3 linked regions of the Homo sapiens genome follow. The protein of the gene in region 1 purifies or fractionates together with the protein of each later gene. This does not show direct contact. Each region holds a gene or a part of one and is shown on either strand. Other genes may lie near its edges.

Region 1 (3,733 bases):
GCAAATATCCAAGCATCTGTCTAATTCATGTTCTATATATCCTGGTACACGAAAAATTCTTTTAAAAAGGTATATTCTTCCCTAAACAACACAAACTTATTTTCTTTGGTTAAAACCAATACATTACCACTCATTCTATAGTTTTATTTAATAATAGTAACAAAATCGTAAAAATTGTTATCTGGTTTCATATATTACCTAATTTGCCTTACTATATGAACAGTGAACAGTTGTAATCAGTTCTTTCTTTTTGTTTTAATTTTGTAAAGATGGGGTCTCGTTATGTTGCCCAAGCTGGTCTTGAACCCCTGGGCTCAAGCAATCCTCCTGCCTCAGCCTCCAAAACTGCTGGGATTGTAGACGTGAGTGATTGCACCTGGCTAATCCGTTTTTAAAATTACGAAAACTTCAAACTGCATTGTTAGATTTCTCTCAACTTGTTAAATTTTAATAGTTTCTTCACTTTTTATTAGTTGCTGATATTACCAGGAATTGGTTAAAGGTAAAGATATAGCACTCCATAATACTGAATATATTTAGGATGCTCATAAGGAATTGACTGATATGTTTAATCTAAGTAACTTTTTAGTAGGCTCACTCTGAAAAAAAATGATGTTTTATTTGCTAGAAAACTGTAGTATATGGCACACAAATATATTGAATCTGAATTTTTTACAAAGAGAGACAGGTCATTTAGTACATTATTCCAATCAATAAAAAGTTATTCTAGAAACTCTCTATATACTTGTAGTGATGGGTAAATACAGTATTTCCCATGACAACTTAACAGCACTGCTGATAGAAAGCCTGTCCTTATGTTAAGCTAAATTCTACATTTTTCTAACTTTCACTCATTAATTCTAAGCTGGCATCCTGAAGTAAACATATAAGCCTGATCATCTTTCTGTGTAATAATATTTGAAAAACTTCAAGATTCTTCCAAAATAACCAAGGCTTTGCTTTTCAGAACATGTTTTGTAGGCTCCTCCTAATGCAAGATACTTACATGCTTCTAGATTTAGTCAAGTTTTTCAATACATGTTTTAAAATGTGTTGCCCAGAACTGTCACCATTTTTTCTCTATTTGATGCTGTACTTCTATTACTTTGGCTTAAAATTACATTGGCTTTTTAAAGGCTCATACTATTGATTCTTATTGAACTTAACAGTTATTGAACTTTCCTCATCTTTTATCAACAAATAATCGAGTGTTTTTTTTTAGTATTTTATATTTATACAAATTATTTTTGATCCTTTGTTGAACTTCATATTTTTTGACCATATATTAGAAAATTTCAGATTTTATTAAAGTCAAATTCTGTCTTCTCTAATAGATAACCTGTTTTAAGACTGACTCTGTTTATTTCTGACATCTGGAGACAGGCACTATACCAAAGGTTCTCCTTTTTCCTTAGGGTTTTAGGGATTCCAAGGAGCGGCTGGTATAGGAGATGAGGAGTGGAGATAATAAGCCAAGTAGACAGAGTGCTAGCCTTCCTAATCAGATTCAAACAGAGCACGCATTTGTATTTTATTTTACACATTAAACTTCTGAGAGTTAATTTGAAAAAACAGTGCAGGGGCTTAAAATTAGTTTTTGAAAATCACTGAACTGTTTATAATCTCCTTTAGGCCTTCCAGTTCCACAAACATACCTTAACTGTAGTGGTTTAAAAATATACAGAAAGAAAGAGAGATTTGAAGATAAAACAATTAAGAAAAAATATACAAAGATGTTTTGAACAACATACCAATTAGCTTTTCCTCCGTTGGTTATCCACATCTTCTGACCATTAATAATATACTCATCTCCTTTCTTTTCTGCTTTGGTCTTTATACCAGCTACATCAGAGCCTGCTCCAGGTTCTGTTACACAATAAGCCTTGAATATATAAAAACAAGAGAAATGAAATTAAATGTTAGTGATTAAATTTTGACTGTTTGGAAACAGGATTGTTTTATTTTTTAAGCTGTATTTTAAATATTTTTAAATATCTAAAATTAAAATGTTCTTACAAAATCAAAGAAACCACTCAAATGTAAAAACTTTTCTGTTTTGTTTGTAAGAGACAGGGTCTCACTCTCTTGCCCAGGCTGGAATGCAGAGGCTCAATGCAGTCTTGGCTTCCTGGACTCAGGAAATCCTCCCGCCTCAGCCTCCCGTGTATAATAGCTGAGACTGCAAGCACACATCACCATGCCCAGCTAATTTTAAATTTTTTGTAGACATGGCATCTCACTGTGTTGCCTAGGCTGGTCTCAACCTCCTGGGCTCAGGCAATCCTCTGCCTCAGCCTCCCAAAGTGCTGGGACTACAGGTATGAGCCACAGTGCCTGGCCTAAAAACACTTAATATATAATTCAAATTAGGCATAGGTATATCAACAAATCATATATTTAATAAAAAGTGAAAATGTTAGATAGCTTTAAACAAGTTCATTAAATTCAATTTCACATGTATTCATTCATGCAAACATGTATTGAATATCTACTATGTACCACGATGTAAATTAGGATATGGGGAAACCAGAGGTAAAAGACATTCAGTCCTAGAGATTTTCACAATGTAACAGTGAAGATAAATAACTATACTGCAACTCTATGTGTGAAAGTCAGACAAGGGGCTTGAGAAACTAGTTTCCCAGGGCAGAGGATGTTTAAATTAAGTCTCAAAAAGGAAAATGGCTTCTTTGCGAGGAGGGAAAAAGAGGAAGAATATGCATTCCAGGTACAAGTAATGGCATATGCTATGACACTAAGATAAGAAACAGAGTTACCCAGTGTTTCTAATGCTGAAAGTACCAGAGTTCCACAGTATGTAAATTCTGTGCATGTAAGGGAATGGTAAGACATGAGTCTGGAAAGAAAGGAAGGAAATGGTCGACGAGAATCTTTTATATCACATTACAAATTTAAAATTTTATCTGGTAGAAACAGGGGAGCCTCTTAGAGCTCTTAAACAGAGGAGTGACAAGACACAAGCAGTAATGGATAAAAGGGGGTGGTAGAAGGCAAGTGTTAGTGCAAGTTAATTCAAGAGTGGCCGGTACTGTGGATACTAAAGAAACAAGTTACTTGCCCTTAAGGTACTTACAGTCCAAAGAAGAAAGAAACTGGGCCGAGCATGGTGGCCCCCCACCTGTAATCCTAGCATTTTGTGAGGCTGAGATGGGAGGATCGCTTGAGACCAGGAGTTCAAGACCAGCCTGGTCAACATGCCGAGAACCCATGTCAATTTATTTTTTAAAAATATACAACAAAAAAGAAAGAAACTATATACATTTTAATTCAAAGTAGTAAGCATATATAGGGGCACTAGAAATGATTACTTAGGGCCGGGCGTGGTGGCTGAGGCTTCAGGTTTGTAATCCCAGCACTTTGGGAGGCCGAGGCAGGTGGGTCACCTGAGGTTAGGAGTTCGAGACCAGCCTGGCCAACATGGTGAAACCCTGTCTCTACTAAAAATACAAAAACTTAGCCAGGCTTGGTGGCGGGCGCCTGTAATCCCAGCTACTTGGGAGGCTGAGGAAGAATTGCTTGAACCTGGGAGGTGGAGGTTGCAGTGAGCCGAGATGGTGCCACTGCACTCCAGCCTAGGCAACAGAGCGAGACTCCATTTCAGAAAAAAAAAATAATAACAATACTTGGCTGGGCATGGTGGCTCACACCTGTAATTCCAGCACATTGGGAGGCCAAGGTGGGCAGATCATGAGGTCAGGAGATAGAGACCATC
Region 2 (3,500 bases), on another chromosome or scaffold:
AGCTTTGCATACCTGGAGTAAATCCCACGTAGTGATGGTGTATAATTATTTTTAATACATTGTTGGATTTGATTTGCTAATACACTGTTGAGGATTTTTGCCTCTAACCTATGCTCATGAGAGATATTAGTCACTGTCCACCAAGGTCATTCAATTAGAGAAACCTTAGATCATTCTTACTGCTTTCCTTTCTACTACGAATGTACATGTGAAGAAGTTAAATGCTTGCAAATCTAGTCTCCTATTGCTTTGCCAGCATCTTCATCCAGGTTCTTGAGGTCTCTCCTGAGGCTGTGGCAGCCTACATCCCCATGTCTTCTGTGTTCATCAAAACTCCAACCTCATTTTACGCTTGTCACTGCCATGTGAGATACTTTGCTGAAATACTAAACTGATTTGTGGGCTTATAAACATTCATTTCCCTATTAACCTACAAATAAGATTTAAACCAATTTGCTTTTTTTGATATTTAAAAATATTAATTATTTAAAGTAACAAACCCAACTCATGTGTCCAGTTTCCCCTTCTCCATTTCTCACTCTTTCCTGATCATGAATGCTCTTAAAATGACATTCTGTTCCCGAGAATCCCCTCCTCACATCTCTACTTTGTGCACACATTTCATCATGCTCAGTTCTCCTGTGTAGCTTTGCCTGCAAACACAGGCACTTTGTATGGATTTGAAGGCAGAAAGATCATCTAATATTTTTTAGCATGTCTTCCCCCATTAGGCCAGGAATTCTCTCATATTCATCTTTCACCAACATTTCATTTAAGCCTAATCATTTTGACTTCTGCACATTAGCATTTCAATTTTAAAGACTTGAAAAAAAATACTAAATGTTATGTAAATGTAATTTTTTATGAACCTTGTTTACAAGGTAACAATATGTCAGAGACCATGTCGTGTTTACCAGTGCCTGGAATTTAGAGCATCTTGGTAAATGTTTATTGAGCTAAATTGAAAAAGTTAAGAATCAGTTTATATAAACTACTTTTACACGTGTAGTCATGTTCGACTATATCATTGACTCTGTTACTGGAAGAGGTTGCTGTGAACTAAGGAAATTTTTAGAGTGGCTGGCCTTGATTCGAAGTATAGTTGGGCAGCTTAACAAGGGGAGGGGCTTTTCTGTCATGGAAACAAGATAAGCAAAGATATGGAGGTGGGACTAGAGCATGTGTGAGTCAATAGAGCATGTTGACTTCTGGGAAGGTGGTGGTACAGACAGGCCAAATAAAAGGAGGCCTTCAATACAGGGATTTGCGCCACTACTAAGGGATTTAAATATATGTCTATTCATATACATTCTGAGTCCTGTATTTGATAGATTGTTTCTTTATGGGGTATTCTTTAAATAAATATATATTAACTGAAAGTTTTTCTTGTATAATGGAACTATTTTTCAAAAAACTGAAACATTTTTAAAACTTTTATCCTCAGGATTCAAGTTCGAAATATGGCAACTTTGAAAGATAGTAAGTATGTTGTTTGTCTCAATATGTGAATTGAGAAAAACTAAATTTTGACAAATACAAATACTTTCAAAAATATACTGCTTTAGCCCATTGTGTATTTGATCAAAACTGACCAAATGGATTTCCATTGTATGTTTGGGACATTGGACTTGTTCTGAAAAGACCAGTAAGAAAGGACACCTGAGACAGCTATGTTCTGTTGTTTGTAGAATGATCATGATATAACTAGAAAAAATTATACCAGTGTTGGTGTAGGTGGGTGTATGTGTGGGAAGGGGTAAATCATGTTATATATAAATAATGTTATGGAATATGTGGTTAAGGCAACTTTCAATACCATTTAATGTTTTAAATGTATATTATTGTCTTATGTTGCCATTTGCTTGTCCTAAGTAGTAGCTAGTTTTGCCTTCCTTTTATTAGTACTATTTCTATTTTTTTTTTTTGGAGATGGAGCCTCATTCTATCACCCAGGCTGGAGTGCAGTGGCGCCATCTCGGCTCACTGCAAGCTCCGCCTCCCGGGTTCACGCCGTTCTCCTGCCTCAGCCTCCCGAGTAGCTGGGACTACAGGCGCCCGCCACCACGCTCGGCTAATTTTTTGTATTTTTAGTGGAGACGGGGTTTCACCGTGTTAGCCAAGATGGTCTTGATCTCCTGACCTCGTGATCCGCCCACCTCAGCCTCCCAAAGTGCTGGGATTACAGGCGTGAGCCACCGTGCCCGGCTATTAGTACTAGTTCTAATATTAAGACTGGTTTAGCATCGTGCTGTTTATTGTTTATCTAAGCGCTCATTATTCTGCCTTGCACTTCAGAAAAATATGTCAATAAATTCACAAGGAAGTTATACTGTAATTCCTTTGTCTTAACACAGTACTTCTATTTTTCAGTCACCAGGAGACTAAAGTCCATCAAAAACATCCAGAAAATTACCAAGTCTATGAAAATGGTAGCGGCAGCAAAATATGCCCGAGCTGAGAGAGAGCTGAAACCAGCTCGAATATATGGATTGGGATCTTTAGGTAAGGGAAGAGTGTAATTCACAAATTAGGAAGAACTGTTTCACACAAGGAAGACTACTGATGACTTACATTTAGAGCTTACAGTGATGTCAAGCCTATCTGAGCACTTGCCATGTACTTATTTTTCATCTACATCCACTTGACACGTAATGATAACAACCCGTGTAGGTAGTACAGGTAGGGACTGTTAGAATCCCTGCTTTCCAGTGAGAAAAACTGAAGCACACAGAAGTTAAGTAACTTGCCTAAGATCACATATAAAAGGATGAAGAGCCTCTGTTTGGACCTATGTGGTTTGGTGTCGAGTCTGTGTATTTGTTAGCCATTATACGTGACCATGTTAACTTTTAAAATATTCTGAAATGTTCCCAGTTGTTAAGTATACCATCAGAAGAACTTGGAAACCGTGCGTTAGATGTAAGGGCTTAATTTCATCCTATGACCTTGTAGTGTGGCATTTTAGGACTGCAGCGGGGGCGGGTGAGGGGCAGTGCAGTGGAGAGCTGGCCTTGTGGTCATGGATATGACTCATGATGGTGTTTTGAGAATCCGAACGATGTTGAAGCAGGAAAAGCAGCTGAGAACCTCCATTTTCAAGATACTTAATCACCATTCTTATCTTTTCAAAAGCATGAAGACATTTTTCCTTCAGAAATTTATGTAATCCATCCTTAATTAGTCTTCTTAATGGAAAAGAGATGAGATATGACAGTTTAAAAAGAATTTATATTGTGTTTTTAGATGCTTTTATACTTGTTTGATTATGAATTCATCTTGGAAATAAAGTTGTAAAGAGCTGGAAATGGGAAAGAAGTTTCTATTTTAACTTGTAATTACATTCTTTCTCTTAACTTTTTTATGATCATGCTGTCTTATCCTGAGTTGAGGCTATCTAAAAGAATTTTTAACTTAAGGAAGATTTATGCATATTTGATAGTAAAGAAGATCATGCAGTGAACCCCCTATTTATCTACCAAATCCTCAGTATCTCAACTGAC
Region 3 (3,733 bases), about 90 Mb from region 1:
CACAAATCAATAAACGTAATCCATCATATAAACAGAACCAAAGACAAAAACCACGACTATCTCAACAGACGCAGAAAAGGCCTTCGACAAATTTCAACAGCCCTTCATGCTAAAAACTCTCAATATACTAGGTATTGATGGGACATATCTCAAAATAATAAGAGCTATTTATGACAAACCCACAGCCAATATCATACTGAATGGGCAAAAACTGGAAGCATTCCCTTTGAAAACTGGCACAAGACATGAATGCCCTCTCTCACCACTCCTATTCAACATAGTGTTGGAAGTTCTGGCCAAGGCAATCAGGCAGGAGAAAAAAATAAAGTGTATTCAATTAGGAGGAAGTCAAATTGTCCCTGTTTGCAGATGACATGATTGTATATTTAGAAAACCCCATTGTCTCAGCCCAAAATCTCCTTAAGGTGATAAGCTACTTCAGCAAAGTCTCAAGATACAAAATCAATGTGCAAAAATCACAAGCATTCCTATACACCAATAACAGACAAACACAGAGCCAAATCATGAGTGAACTCCCATTCACAATTGCTTCAAAGAGAATAAAATACCCAGGAATCCAACTTACAAGGGATGTGAAGGACCTCTTCAAGGAGAACTACAAACCACTGCTCAATGAAATAAAAGAGGACACAAACAAATGAAAGAACATTCCATGCTCATGGATAGGAAGAATCAATATCGCAAAAATGGCCATACTGCCCAAGGTAATTTATAGATTTAATGCCATCCCCATCAAGCTACCAATGACTTTCTTCACAGAATTGGAAAAAACTATTTTAAAGTTCATATGGAACCAAAAAAGAGCCTGCATTGCCAAGACAATCCTAAGCCAAAAGAACACAGCTGGAGGCATCATGCTACCTGACTTCAAACTATACTACAAGGCTACAGTAACCAAAACAGCATGGTACTGGTACCAAAACAGAGATATAGAACAATGGAACAGAACGGAGCCCTCAGAAATAATACCACACATCTACAACCATCTGATCTTTGACAAACCTGAGAAAAACAAGAAATGAGGAAAGGATTCCCTATTTAATAAATGGTGCTGGGAAAACTGGCTAGCCATATGTAGAAAGCTGAAACTGGATCCCTTCCTTACACCTTATACAAAAATTAATTCAAGATGGATTAAAGACTTAAATGTTAGACCTAAAACCATAAAAACCCTAGAAGAAAACCTAGGCAATACCATTCAGGACACAGGCATGGGCAAGGACTTCATGACTAAAACACCAAAAGCAATGGCAACAAAAGCCAAAATAGACAAATGGGATCTAAGTAAACTAAAGAGCTTCTGCACAGCAAAAGAAACTACCATCAGAGTGAACAGGCAACCTACAGAATGGGAGAAAATTTTTGTAATCTACCCATCTGACAGAGGGTTAATATCCAGAATCTACAATGAACTTAAACAAATTTACAAGAAAAAACAAACAACCCCATCAACAAGTGGGCAAAGGATATGAACAGACACTTCTCAAAAAAAGACATTTATGCAGCCAAAAGACACATGAAAAAATGCTCATCATCACTGGCCATCAGAGAAATGCAAATCAAACCCACAATGAGATACCATCTCACACCAGTTAGAATGGCAATCATTAAAAAGTCAGGAAACAACAGGTGCTGGAGATGATGTGGAGAAATAGGAACACTTTTACACTGTTGGTGGGACTGTAAACTAGTTCAACCATTGTGGAAGACAGTGTGGCGATTCCTCAAATATCTAGAACTAGAAATACCATTTGACCCAGCCATCCCATTACTGGGTATATACTCAAAGGATTATAAATCATGCTACTATAAAGACACATGCACACGTATGTTTATTGCAGCACTATTCACAAGAGCAAAGACTTGGAACCAACCCAAATGCCCATCAATGATAGACTGGATTAAGAAAATGTGGCACATATATACCATGGAATACTATGCAGCCATTAAAAAGGATGAGTTCATGTCCTTTGCAGGGACATGGATGAAGCTGGAAACCATCATTCTGAGCAAACTATCACAAGGACAGAAAACCAAACACTGCATGTTCTCATTCATAGGTGGGAATTGAACAATGAGATCACTTGGACACAGGGTGGGGAACATCACACACCGGGGCCGTAGGGGGTGGGGGGCTGGGGGAGGGATAGCATTAGGAGAAATACCTAATGTAAATGGTGAGTTGATGGGTGCAGCAAACCAACATGGCACTTGTATACCTATGTATCAAACCTGCACATTGTGTACATGTACCCTAGAACTTAAGTATAAAAAAAAAAAAAAAAGGAGGCAGGATTATCACTTGTTCCTCGCAGCTCTGGACTCCCAGGAAGAGGCAGCCTGGTCAGATTCTGGGAAACAAAAGAAACCTTTTGTTTCCGTCAAGTTTCAAACAGAGGACCTTCCGTGTGTTAGGCCAGCGTGGTAACTACTACACCACAGAAACCCTTTGCATTGCAGGCTTTTTATGTTTTGCGATGAGTATTAAATACTTGTTTTTACAATTTTTTTTAGTTGACAAATAAAAATTGTATATATTTATGATGTAAAAAAAAAGTTTAACTCTCTTTTTTTTAAAGGGAACATCTACAAATCTATGAAATCTTCCCAATTAAAGTAACGATACTTAAAACCCTATCTGAAAACAAATCTGAAAAAGAAAGGTAGACTTGAGAATCATCAAAATAAAGAATAAAAAGGAAACAAGTAAACCACATGGTTTAAAAAGAAAGAAAGGCTGGGCACAGTGGCTCACGCCTGTAATCCCAGCATTTTGTGAGGCCGATGTGGGTGGATCACTTGAGGTCAGGAGTTCAAGACCAGCCTGGCCAACATGGTGAAATCCATCTCTACGAAAAATACAAAAATTAGCCAGGCATGGTGGCACACACCTGTAGTCCCAGCTACTTGGGAAGCTGAGGCAGGAGAATTGCTTGAGCCCGGGAGGCGAAGGTTGCAGTGAGCCGAGATCACTCCACTGCACTCCAGCCTGGGCGACAGAGCAAGATTCCGTCTCAAAAAAAAAAAAAAATAAAAATAAAAAAAGGACGATGAGCTATAAAGAGTGCATTATAATTCAAAACAAAGCTTTACAAACATGAAAACCTGCCAAAGGAGATGTCCAAGAGCCAACATCCAGATGGGAAGTATTGAACAAAAACTTGTTTTATATACTAAGGTGAGCATGTGGAAATGTTTTTCCATTTTATAAAAACGTTACGGCCTAATGTTGCAACAAAGTCGAACTGCAAACATCACAAAGAAACCTCAGAGCAATGTCTGAGTTCTGGAAGGAAATAAATTGGAACATACCCTTATTATCCTGGCAGCCTCCAAAAGGATTCGGCAACGCTCCATGCCAGATTTTTGACTCCATATTTTAAAAGCAGCCTTTGCATTTTGAACAGCCAAATTTACTTCCTTTTCTCCTGAACATGTGAAAGTAGCTATCACTCGGCCTATAAAGAGCGGAAACATCAGTTTTAACTCAAATTGTTGCCACATATTTAAATAAAATATTATCTATCAATATTCTCTTAGTAGTAGTCTTTTTTTTTTTTTTTTTTTTTTTCTTGAGATGGAGTCTTGCTCTGTCACCCAGGCTGGAGTGCAGTGGCGCGATCTCGGCTCACTGCAACCTCTGCCTCCTGAGTTCAAGCGATTCCCCTGCCTCAGCCTCCTGAGTAGCTGGGACTACCAGTGCACGCCACTA

The links.
Region 2: the proteins of ACADM (region 1) and ATP5F1C fractionate together in Homo sapiens (co-fractionation; one large-scale study listed by BioGRID). This does not show direct contact.
Region 3: the proteins of ACADM (region 1) and ALDH9A1 fractionate together in Homo sapiens (co-fractionation; one large-scale study listed by BioGRID). This does not show direct contact.

What each region holds. Positions count from the first base shown.
Region 1 is NC_000001.11:75,738,129-75,741,861, reverse strand, and holds part of ACADM (medium-chain specific acyl-CoA dehydrogenase, mitochondrial isoform a precursor), read right to left. Parts: intron 1,883-3,733; coding exon 1,752-1,882; intron 1-1,751. UniProt on the Homo sapiens protein: Medium-chain specific acyl-CoA dehydrogenase is one of the acyl-CoA dehydrogenases that catalyze the first step of mitochondrial fatty acid beta-oxidation, an aerobic process breaking down fatty acids into acetyl-CoA and allowing the production of energy from fats.
Region 2 is NC_000010.11:7,794,677-7,798,176, forward strand, and holds part of ATP5F1C (ATP synthase F(1) complex subunit gamma, mitochondrial isoform L (liver) precursor), read left to right. Parts: intron 1-1,444; coding exon 1,445-1,479; intron 1,480-2,370; coding exon 2,371-2,502; intron 2,503-3,500.
Region 3 is NC_000001.11:165,691,919-165,695,651, forward strand, and holds part of ALDH9A1 (4-trimethylaminobutyraldehyde dehydrogenase isoform 1 precursor), read right to left. Parts: intron 3,480-3,733; coding exon 3,334-3,479; intron 1-3,333. UniProt on the Homo sapiens protein: Converts gamma-trimethylaminobutyraldehyde into gamma-butyrobetaine with high efficiency (in vitro). Can catalyze the irreversible oxidation of a broad range of aldehydes to the corresponding acids in an NAD-dependent reaction, but with low efficiency.